2 separate regions of the Homo sapiens genome follow, and region 2 is linked to region 1. Evidence: fine-mapped expression QTL. A gene starts in region 1. The other region holds a variant in brackets. All regions are shown on one strand. Distances are between the middles of the regions. Region 1 holds the start of CYP17A1 (cytochrome P450 family 17 subfamily A member 1). Region 2 has its middle 14 kb from the start of NT5C2.

Region 1 (5,307 bases):
CCAGTGTGCGCCAGAGTCAGCGAAGGCGATACCCTTACGGTTGTTGGACGCGATGTCTAGAGTTGCCTTTAGAGAGCAGGCAAGGCTGTAGGAATCTCACACCATCCACCCCACTCTTGCCCTTACACCTCTGGTCCCTGCTTTCCTTCCTGGAGGAGAAGGCAGGTACCTGGCATGCTGACTCCCATGTGGGCACAGCCCCACTGCACTCCACCATGACTGCAAGGACTTGGTAGGACAGACCCTAAGGCCTCCTACTCCCAATTCCTTCAGAAATACAGTAGATCAAGGAGAAAGAAAGAACCCTTAATTAGAATGCAGCAGCATTGGGGTTCTTTTCGCTGACAGGGTGCCCTCTGGGCTTCTTTTTGCTCATCAGTTTCTGACCACAGGAAGGCAACTCTGGATGGGATAAACTCTCTAAACTATGCCTGTCCAGAGGGTAGGGAGCAGGTGAGCTTGTAGAGGCTGAGGACTGCACAGATCTCTGCTTTTCCCTGAGCCCTTAGCTGAGCTAAAGGCACAGCTCACCTCACTCAGGTTTACCCTTCCATTGCAAGCCTGCATACCCAGCCACAAGCCCACATTTGGAGAGTGCAGATGTTTTGTCTACCCAGTCTGGACTTGGGCCGAGCCGCCTCCTCCTAGAGGTGCCCCCCAAAGCAAAAGGGTCCAAAGCCTCCCTTTTCCATTTCCTGACCCTGAAGATCCACATGACTAGCCTTCTCCATCTTCTCTGCCCCCGGGAGGAAGCCAGCAGAGGTGGGAGCTAGGTAGTTGGTCAGCAGACCTGGCTGATTGGTCCAAGAAAAAATAAACCAACCCTTGGCTTGATCAAAGCTGAGAGGCTGGCAGGGCACAGTGGCTTACGCCTATAATCCTAGCACTTTGGGAGGCTAAGGTGGGAGGATCACGAGGTCAGGAGATCGAGACCATCCTGGCTAACATGGTGAAACACCATCTCTACTAAAAATACAAAAAATTAGCGGGCATGGTGGCATGCTCCTGTAGTCCCAGGTACTCAGGAGGCTGAGGCAGGAGAATCACTTGAACCCGGGAGGCAGAGGTTGCAGTGAGCTGAGATTGGCCACTGCACTCCAGGCTGGGCGACAGAGAGAGACTCTGTCTCAAAAAAAAAAAAAAAAAAAAAAAATGCTGAGAGGCTGGGGGCCCTGCTGAGTGGGAGGCTCATCAGCAACCCTGAAATGTCATTGTAGAAAACTGCCCCTGTGAGCCTGAGTAGCTGGAAATAGCACCAGGAAAGCAGCAATCCCAGCCTGCAATAGCTAGGCTAATTCTCCCCAGCAGCTTTCATGGAGGACAGTAGTCACTGCCCCCATTTTCCATGAAAAGTAACATGAATCCTGGCTGTATAAGGGGCACTTACTGTGCTGGGTGCTAGGCTAAGTGCTGTACATGCACCTTCTCAGTCCATTAGAGAAGTCTAGGCTCAGAGAGAGGAGTGGAGTGAGGATTCCTTGACCCCTCAGACCACTGTGGTCCTCCCATCCCACCTCCTGGGCAGCCTGGTAGAGGAGACATTCCTTTAATTCTTCCTGCCTAATTTAGAGGCTGGGTGGGGGTCTGAAGGTTCACTCCCTTCACATCATCCCACTAGTCTACTTTGGGAAGAATTACAGGTTGTTGGAGCTGGAAGCCCCATTCTAGGCATGGTCTGAAGACCTGAACAATCCCAGGGGGTGGTGAAGGGGGCAGGGAGGAGATGGGCACCACTTACCATTTGAGGCCGCCCAGAGAAGTCCTTGCCCTTCTTAATAAGCACCTCCTTGGCCAGCTGGTGGTGGCCGACAATCACTGTAGTCTTGGTGCCCATACGAACCGAATAGATGGGGCCATATTTTTTCTGCAGCTTGAAGAAGTTGTTATGCATATGGCCGTGTCTGGGGAGGAATGGCAGGCTGCCCACCAGGGGCAGGGACAGGAGGCTCTTGGGGTACTTGGCACCAGGGCACCTTCTCTTGGGCCAAAACAAATAAGCTAGGGTAAGCAGCAAGAGAGCCACGAGCTCCCACATGGTGGCTGGGTGCCGGCAGGCAAGATAGACAGCAGTGGAGTAGAAGAGCTGTGGCAACTCTAGGGCACAAGGAGGCCTTTTAAAGGGCTACCCTGATCTTCACCTTGACTTTGTGTTATCTCTTGCCTTGTGGAAAGATTCTCCTGGAGCCCAGCCAGGCCTGAGCTCATATCCAGAAGGGAGAGAGGCGGTGGGAGTGAAGGCCTCCTCAAGGGCTGGCTCAACTCCAGGGCAAACCTCCGGAGGAGGAGCTAGGTAAGGGAGGTCAGTTGATCACCCTCTGAGGAGCTCCCCATGCTTGAATGACTCCAGAGTGCGAATGGTATCTGGGCTCAGGAGTCAAGGCTTGGAACTTTCCATGTTGCAAAATCAAAATCACTGGACAGATGACAGATTCAGGAGGGTCACAAGTAGCAGGGACTGTTAAAGGTCTTTTATGCTTCTTTTTTTTTTTTTCAGAGTCTTGCTCCATCACCAGGCTGGTGTGCAGTGGTGTGACTGTCCATGCAGCCCTGGCCCTCCAGCCCATGTGGTTTTGGCAGCGATAAGGGCTGTGGGTTAATGGTCCCCAAAATAAAAATGTACATGTGTATGGGAACGAAAGGGGTGCTAAGCTGTGGGGAGCGGTGGAAGGGAAGGGAGAGATAGGTCAGTACTAGGAATGCCAGAGGTGGGAGGCCGTTTCATAACATTTCTTGTTGATCAAAATGCCATCAACACCTTCTTTGCTCATCAGCAGGACTAGCGTACTGGGGGAACCCACCCCCAATATTTCAACGTAGGTTCTTTCTATAAGTGTCAGCCGGCTGAGAAATAAAGAGAGACAGTATAAAGAGAGGAATTTTACAGCTGGGCCGCCGGGGGTGGCATCACATATCGGTAGGACTGTGATACCCACCTGAGCCTCAAACCAGCAAGTTTTTATTAAGGGTTTCAAAAAGGGGAGGGGGTGTAAGAACAGGGAGTAGGTACAAAGATCACATGCTTCAAAGGGCGAAAAGCAGAACTACTAATAAGTGTCTAACAAAGATCACATGCTTCTGAGGGAAAGGACAAAGGGCAAAAGCAGAACTACCGATAAGGGTCCAACAAAGATCACAAGGCAAAGGGCAAAAGCAGAACCACTGATAAGGGTCCAACAAAGATCACAAGGCAAAGGGCAAAAGCAGAACTACAGATGAGGGTCTATGTTCAGCGGTGCACATACTGTCTTGATAAACACCTTAAACAACAGCAAACAGGGTTCGACAGCAGAGAACCGGTCTGACCACAAATTTACCAGGGCGGAGTTTTTCCCCACCCTAGTAAGCCTGAGGGTACTGCAGGAGACCAGGGCGTATCTCAGTCCTTATCTCAACTGCACAAGATAGACATTCCCAGAGCGGCTGTTTATAGACCTCCCCCCAGGAATGCATTCCTTTCCCAGGGTATTAATAATAATACTCCTTGCTAGGAAAAGAATTTAGTGATATCTTCCCTACTTGCATGTCCATTTATAGCCTCTCTCAAGAAGGAAAATATGGCTCTTTCTGCCCGACCCTGCAGGCAGTCAGACCTTATGGTTGTTTTCCCTTGTTCCCTAAAAATTGCTCTTATTCTGTTCTTTTTCAAGGTGCACTAATTTCATATTGTTCAAACACATGTCTTACAATCAATTTGTACAGTTAACACAATTATCACAGTGGTCCTGAAGTGACAAACATCCTCAGCTTACAAAGATAACAGGATTAAGAGATTAAAGTAAAGACAGGCATAAGAAATTATAAAAGTATTATTTGGGAACTGATAAATGTCCATATTAAAATGAAATCTTCACAATTTATGTTCCTCTGCCATGGCTCCAGCCAGTCCCTCCATTCAGGGTCCCTGACTTCCCGCAACATCTCTCCCTTTCTTTTTATATAAATGTGCCGTGGCGATGAAGGCTTGCTCGTTCTCTCGGTTTTGATGCAGGATTCTTTGACTGGTCTGGCACACTAAAAACAAGCCGATTAAACAGAGAAACATGATTCCAAAATTTCCTACAGTGGAGCCCCCAGTAGACTTAATCCAAGTTGTGGAGTTTAGTCCAGAAAGACTTTCTGCCACCTGATCTAACGCCTCAGCTCCAGGCACAATGGATAAATGAGCTTGAGAGGCTTCAAAAATTTGTTTCTTTAATTTAGTTATGTCCAAGGATAAATTATCTTCCCTACCCAGAAGGTGTCCTTTGACCATTTCCCATGATCAGTCTCGTTGTAGGAATATGGTGTGCTATAGAAATCAGAAGTGTTGCAATCGAACTGCATTTGCATGTGATGTTCGAGACTCATTAGCTGGTCCCCAAGCCAAATAACAGACTGTCTTAAATCATTAGCTAATTTTTGATCAATGCCTTGTTGAGGATTCCACATTTGGGTGGAATTGCCTTACCAATCATTAACAAAATTAGCCATTTGAATAGATTGGTGTAATGCCACTCCGGCAGTGGTGGCCAGTGCAGTGACTGTAATTAGGCCCATGATCACAGTGATTAAAGTGAAAACAAATCTCTTGATCTTTTGAGAATTCGTTGTAACACTTCATTAATTAAATGTACTGAGGGGGAAGATTCCCAAGTTCTGGGTAAAGTTACTGGTATCCAGATTCCTTCTCAAGCTCGAACCAACATTACACTTTTCCTGAGTCAAAACGGGAGTTAACACAAGTGGATAAATGACAATTAATGCATTGGACGGTTTGATTGTTCATCCAAATTTTGATATTTCCCACTAACAGCATGTAAGGAGGCTTAACACAACTCTGTATAATAGTCAGGCTGGAGGTAAACAAAGCAGAATGTTTGAATCTACGTTGATACCGAGGGGGAGGAGTGGCGGTGGCAACGCCCAATGTTTGATGCCGTAAAGAAGCAATCCGAGGTGCCCGGGGATTCTGAAGAGGTAGGGGGACATACCTGGGTCCAGAAGAATTATCATAATGCCAATCAGAGTCCCATAAAGGAGGACTGGCATCAAAAAGAGGAAAATGGTCCAAAGGGGATTTATCATGGGTTTCAGAATCACGGATGTGAGGGGTGGTAGTGGGGACAACAGAAAGAAAAGTTTCCCCTTCCCATACTCGCAGTCTGGACATGGCAATAGCCAATTTCCAAAGTTCTGGGTGTTCTGGGCTCAGAATGGGGGATATCATAAGAGGCCTCGGGTGGCAGGGGGTAATGCTCTTATCTTCCCATTTTAAGGGACAGAATGAGCTGAACCTCCTATGCAAAGTAGGATGATGATCCTCGTCCT
Region 2 (5,372 bases), 370 kb after region 1:
CACATATCCACAAAAAATTTTTTTAAAAAGTTAGCTGGCAGCCGGGCATGGTGGCTCATGCCTGTAATCCTAGCACTTTGGGAGGCTAAGGCGGGCTGATCACGAGGTCAGGAGATCAAGACCATCCTGGCCAACATTGTGAAACCCCATCTCTACTAAAAACACAAAAACTAGCTGGGTATGGTGGCACACGCCTGTAGTCCCAGCTACTCGGGAGGCTGAAGCAAGAGAATCACTTGAACCCGGGAGGTGGAGGTTGAAGTGAGCTGAGATCGCACCACTGCACTCCAGCCTGGCGACAGAGTGAAACTCCATCTCAAAAAAAACCCAAAAAAACAAAAAACCAAAAAAAACAGTTAGCTGGCTGTGATGGCTTGTAGCTGTAGTCCCAGCCACTCATGAGGCTAAAGTGGGAGGATCGCTTGAGCCCAGGAGGTCAAGGCTGCAGTGAGCCATGATTAAGCCACTGCACTCCAGTCTGGGTGACAGAGTGAGACCTGTCTCAATTTAAAAAAAAAAGAAAGGAAAGAAAAAAAGAAAGAAAGAAAAAAGTTCCATGCTTGCTGAAAACTTGAAAGACCTACTTAAACATTTAGCACTCAAAAAACTTGGGCATTTATCAGTATAAATTCCTAGATCAGCACATTTACTGCATCTTTTAAAGATTGTAAGGCCTTGTAAGCAAGAAAATGGCTCTGGTGAGATGGGTTTATATAGGGATTTGTAACAGGGATGCACTGTATTTTTTTAATCAGTGGTTCTCAAATTTCATCAGGTATGGTTGCCTGGGGAGTTTTCTAAAAGGCAGATTCCATACCATATCTCAGTCTTACCAATCGTGACTCTCTGGCCTTGGGTCCTAGGAATTCGAAATTTAAACAAATTCCTAAGTAATTCTGATGCAAGTAGTCCCTGTGTTCTCTGAAAATGTTAACTATCTGCCTCACCGGTGCTTGTGACAGCAATCAATGTTGCCATGGTAATAGCCAATCCGAGCCACCCCCTGCTGTCTGCTGCCCAGGCAACATTGACTTCATGTGTCTCTTTCTTGTTTGCTAGCCCAAAGGGCCACTTTGAAAAATAATCTTCTGAGTACTACAGAAACTATACAATTGACCTAAAGAAACTCACTATTGCAGGATCAGGGATTATAAATCCCTATGTCACCTCACCTTCAGAGTATTAGTCTCTTCAGCACCTTTTGTGGCTCCAATTCAGATGTCAGATGCTAGGCATCAATGTTGGTATTTCATTGGCATAAATAGGGTGCAGTCCCTGAAACTCAGACAGTTTTCCAAGCCCACCATGATCTAGGTGTCAGGCCTCTGAGCCCAAGCTAAGCCATCATATCCCCTGTGACTTGCACGTATACATCCAGATGGCCTGAAGCAAGTGAAGAGTCACAAAAGAAGTGAAAATGGCTGGTTCCTACCTTAACTGATGACATTCAACCATTGTGATTTGTTCCTGCCCCACCTTAACTGAGCAATTAACCTTGTGAAATTCCTTCTCCTGGCTCAGAAGCTCCCCCACCGAGCACTTTGTGACCCCCGCCCCTGCCCACAAGAGAAAAACCCCCTTTGACTGTAATTTTCCACTACCCACCCAAATCCTATAAAACTGTCCCACCCCTATCTTCCTTGCTGACTCCTTTTTCGGACTCAGCCCTTCTGCACCCAGGTGAAATAAACAGCCTTGTTGCTCACACAAAGCCTGTTTGGTGGTCTCTTCACACGGACATGCATGACATTTGGTGCCATGACTCAGATTGGGGGACCTCCCTTGGGCGATCAATACCCTGTCCTGCTCTTTGCTCCATGAGAAAGATTCACCTACGACCTCGGGTCCTCAGACCAACCAGCCCAAGGAACATCTCACCAATTTTAAATCAGGTAAGTGGCCTATTTTTACTCTCTTCTCCAACCTCTCTCACTATCCTTCAACCTCTTTCTCCTTTCGATTTTGGCACCACCCTTCAATCTCTCCCTTCTCTTAATTTCAGTTCCTTTCCTTTTCTGGTAGAGACAGAGGAGATGCGTTTTATCTGTGAACCCAAAACTCCAGCTCTGGTCACGGACTCAGGAAGACAGTCTTCTCTTGGTGTTTAATCACTGTGGGGACGCTTACCCACGTTTCAGAGGTGTCTGATCACCAGGGGGATGTCTGGCCTTGATCCTTCACCTTGGTGGCCAGTACCACTTTCACTGGGTGGCAAGCACCACCTCCCCTGGGGGGCAAGTACCCTCCCACCCCTTCTCTCCATGTGTCTACTCTCTCTTTTCTCTGGGCTTGCCTCCTTCACTATGGGCAACCTTCCACCCTCCATTCCTCCCTCTTCTCCCTTAGCCTGTGTTCTCAAGAACTTAAAACCTCTTCAGCTCACACCTGACCTAAAACCTAAATGCCTTATTTTCTTCTGCAACACTGCTTGGCCCCAATACAAACTTGATAAATGCTCTAAATGGCCAGAAAACAGCACTTTCAATTTCTCCATCCTACAGGACCTAGATAATTTTTGTCGAAAAATTGGTAAATGGCCTGAGATGCCTTACATACAGGCATTTTTTCACACTTCGTTCCCTCCCTAGTCTCTGTTCCCAATGCAATTCGTCCCA[A/G]ATCCTCCTTCTTTCCCTACCGCCTGTCCCCTCAGTCCCAACCCCAAGCATTGCTGAGTCTTTCCAATCTTCCTTTTCTACCAAGCCATCTGACCTCTCCCCTCCTCCCCAGACTGCTCCCTATGTTGCTTTCTGCCAGGCTGAATCAGGCTCCAAATCTTCCTCAGCCTCTGCTCCTCCACCCTATAATCCTTTTATCACCTCCCCTCCTCACACCCAGTCCAGCTTACAGTTTTGTTCCATGACTGGCTCTCCCCTACCTGCCCAACGATTTCCTCTTAGAGAGGTGGCTGGAGCTGAAGGCATAGTCAGGGTACTTGTGCCTTTTTCTCTATCAGACCTCTCTCAGATCAGTCAGTGTTTAGGCTCTTTCTCATCAGACCCCACTAATTATATATAGGAATTCCAGTATCTAACTCTGTCCTGCAATTTAACCTGGAGTGATTTAAATGTCATCCTAACATCTACCCTTTCCCCAGATGAACAGGAAAGAGTTTTTTCTCTAGCCCAATCTCACACTGATAACCACCGGCTTCACAAGCCAGACCTCCAAGAAGGCATTAGAGCAGTTCCCCAAGATGATCCCCAATGGAACTATCAGGCAGATTCCCCAGGTATAATTAGGCGAGATTACATGATTTCCTGCCTAGTTGATGGGCTTACAAAGGCAGTTTACAAAGCTGTTAATTTTGACAAGCTTAAAGAAACTACCCAAGGTAAAGACAAAAACCTAGCCCAGTTCCTGGCTTGTTTGGCAGCAACCCTGAGATGCTTTACAGCCCTAGACCCTGAAGGGTCAGAAGGCCGTCTTATTCTAAATAGGCATTTTATCACCCAGTCAGCTCCTGACATTAGAAAAAAGCTTCAAAAATTAGAATCCAGCCCTCAAACCCCACAACAGGAATTAATCAACCTCACCTTCAAGGTGTACAATAATAGAGAGGAGGCAGCCAGACAGCAACGCATTTCTGAGTTACAATTACTTGCCTTTGCTGTGAGACAAAACCCAGCCACACCTCCAGCACACAAGAACTTCAAACTGCCTAAGCCGCAGCAGTCAAGCATTCCTACAGGACCTCCTCCAACAGGCTGTTGCTTCAAGTGCCAGAAATCTGGCCACTGGGCCAAGGAATGCCTGCAGCCCAGGATTCCTCCCAAGCCATGTCCCATCTGTGCAGGGACCCACTGGAAATCAGACTGCCCAGCTCACCCGGCAGCCACTCCTAGAGCCCCTAAAGGTCTGGCCCAAGGCTCTCTGACTGACTGCTTCCCAGATTTGCTTGGCTTGGCAGCTGAAGACTGACGCTGCCTGATCACCTTGGAAGCCCCCTGGACCATCATGGATGCTGAGCTTTGGGTAACTCTCACAGTGGAGGGTAAGTCCGTCCCCTGTTTAATCAACACAGGGGCTACCCACTCCACATTACCTTCTTTTCAAGGGCCTGTTTCCCTTGCCCTCATAACTGTTGTGGGTATTGACGGCCAAGCTTCAAAACCCCTTGAAACTCCCCCACTCTGGTGCCAACTTGGACAACATTATTTTATGCACTCTTTTTTAGTTATCCCCACCTGCCTAGTTCCCTTAATTTTTTTATTTTTTATTTTTTGAGATGGAGTCTTGCTCTGTCGCCCAGGCTGGAGTGCAGTGGCGCGATCTCAGCTCACTGCAAGCTCCGCCTCCTGAGTTCATGCCATTCTCCTGCCTCAGCCTCCAGAGTAGCTGGAACTACAGGTGCCCACCACCACGCCCAGCTAATTTTTTTTTTTTTTGTATTTTTAGTAGAGATGGGGTTTCACCGTGTTAGTGAGGATGGTCTCGATCTGCTGACCTCGTGATCCGCCCACCTCGGCCTCCCAAAGTGCTAGGATTACAGGCGTGAGCCACCGTGCCTGGCCCCAGTTCCCTTATTAGGCCAAGACATTTTAACCAAATTATCTGCTTCCCTGACTCTTCCTGGACTACAGCCAAATCTCATTGTCACCCTTCTTCCCAACCCAAAGCCTCCTTCATGTCTTCCCCTCGTATCCCCCTACCTTAACCCACAAGTATGGGACACCTCTACCCCCTCCCTGGCAACCGATCACACACCCACTACTATCCCACTAAAATCTAATCACCCTTACCCCACTGAACGCCAGTATCCTATCCCACAACAGGCTTTAAGGGGATTGAAGCCTGTTATCACTCACCTGCTACAGCATGGGCTTCTAAAACCTATAAACTCTTCTTACAATTCCCACATTTTACCTGTCCAAAAACGGGACAAGTCTTACAAGTTACTTCAGGATCTGCACCTTATCAACCAAATTGTTTTGCCTATCCACCCCGTGGTGCCAAACCCATATACTGTCTTATCCTCAATACCTCCCTCCACAACCCATTATTCTGTTCTGCATCTCAAACATGCTTTCTTTACTATTTCTTTGCACCCTTCATCCCAGCCTCTCTTCGCTTTCACATAGACTGACCCTGACACCCATCAGTCTCAGCAACTTACCCGGGCTGTACTGCTGCAAGGCTTCACCGACAGCCCCCATTACTTCAGTAAAGTCCTTTCTCATGATTTACTTTCTTTCCATCCATCTGCTTCTCACCTTATTAAATATTTTGACAACTTTCTACTTTATAGCCCCTCCTACAAAACTTCCCAACAGGACACCCTTCTGCTCCTCCAACATCTATTCTCAAAAGGATATTGTGTATCCCCCTCCAAAGCCCAAATTTCTTCCTCATCCATTACCTATCTCGGCATAATT

Evidence for each region. PIP is the estimated chance that this variant, and not a neighbour inherited with it, causes the effect. A credible set is the group of variants that fine-mapping cannot tell apart.
Region 2: its variant is the best candidate, but not a certain one, in a credible set for the expression of CYP17A1 in lung (TOPMed, PIP 0.59).

What each region holds. Positions count from the first base shown.
Region 1 is chr10:102,835,327-102,840,633 of GRCh38, forward strand. It overlaps CYP17A1 (cytochrome P450 family 17 subfamily A member 1), which reads right to left and starts at 2,087. Exons shown (of 8, transcript NM_000102.4): 1 at 1,739-2,087; 2 at 1-66. The coding sequence starts at 2,035. RefSeq lists a promoter at 2,047-2,326.
Region 2 is chr10:103,204,126-103,209,497 of GRCh38, forward strand. No RefSeq gene overlaps it. Among named protein-coding and RNA genes, the nearest start is that of NT5C2, 14 kb to the left of the region's middle. RefSeq lists enhancers at 354-1,013, 1,014-1,672. The variant A/G (reference allele first, on the strand shown) is at 2,616.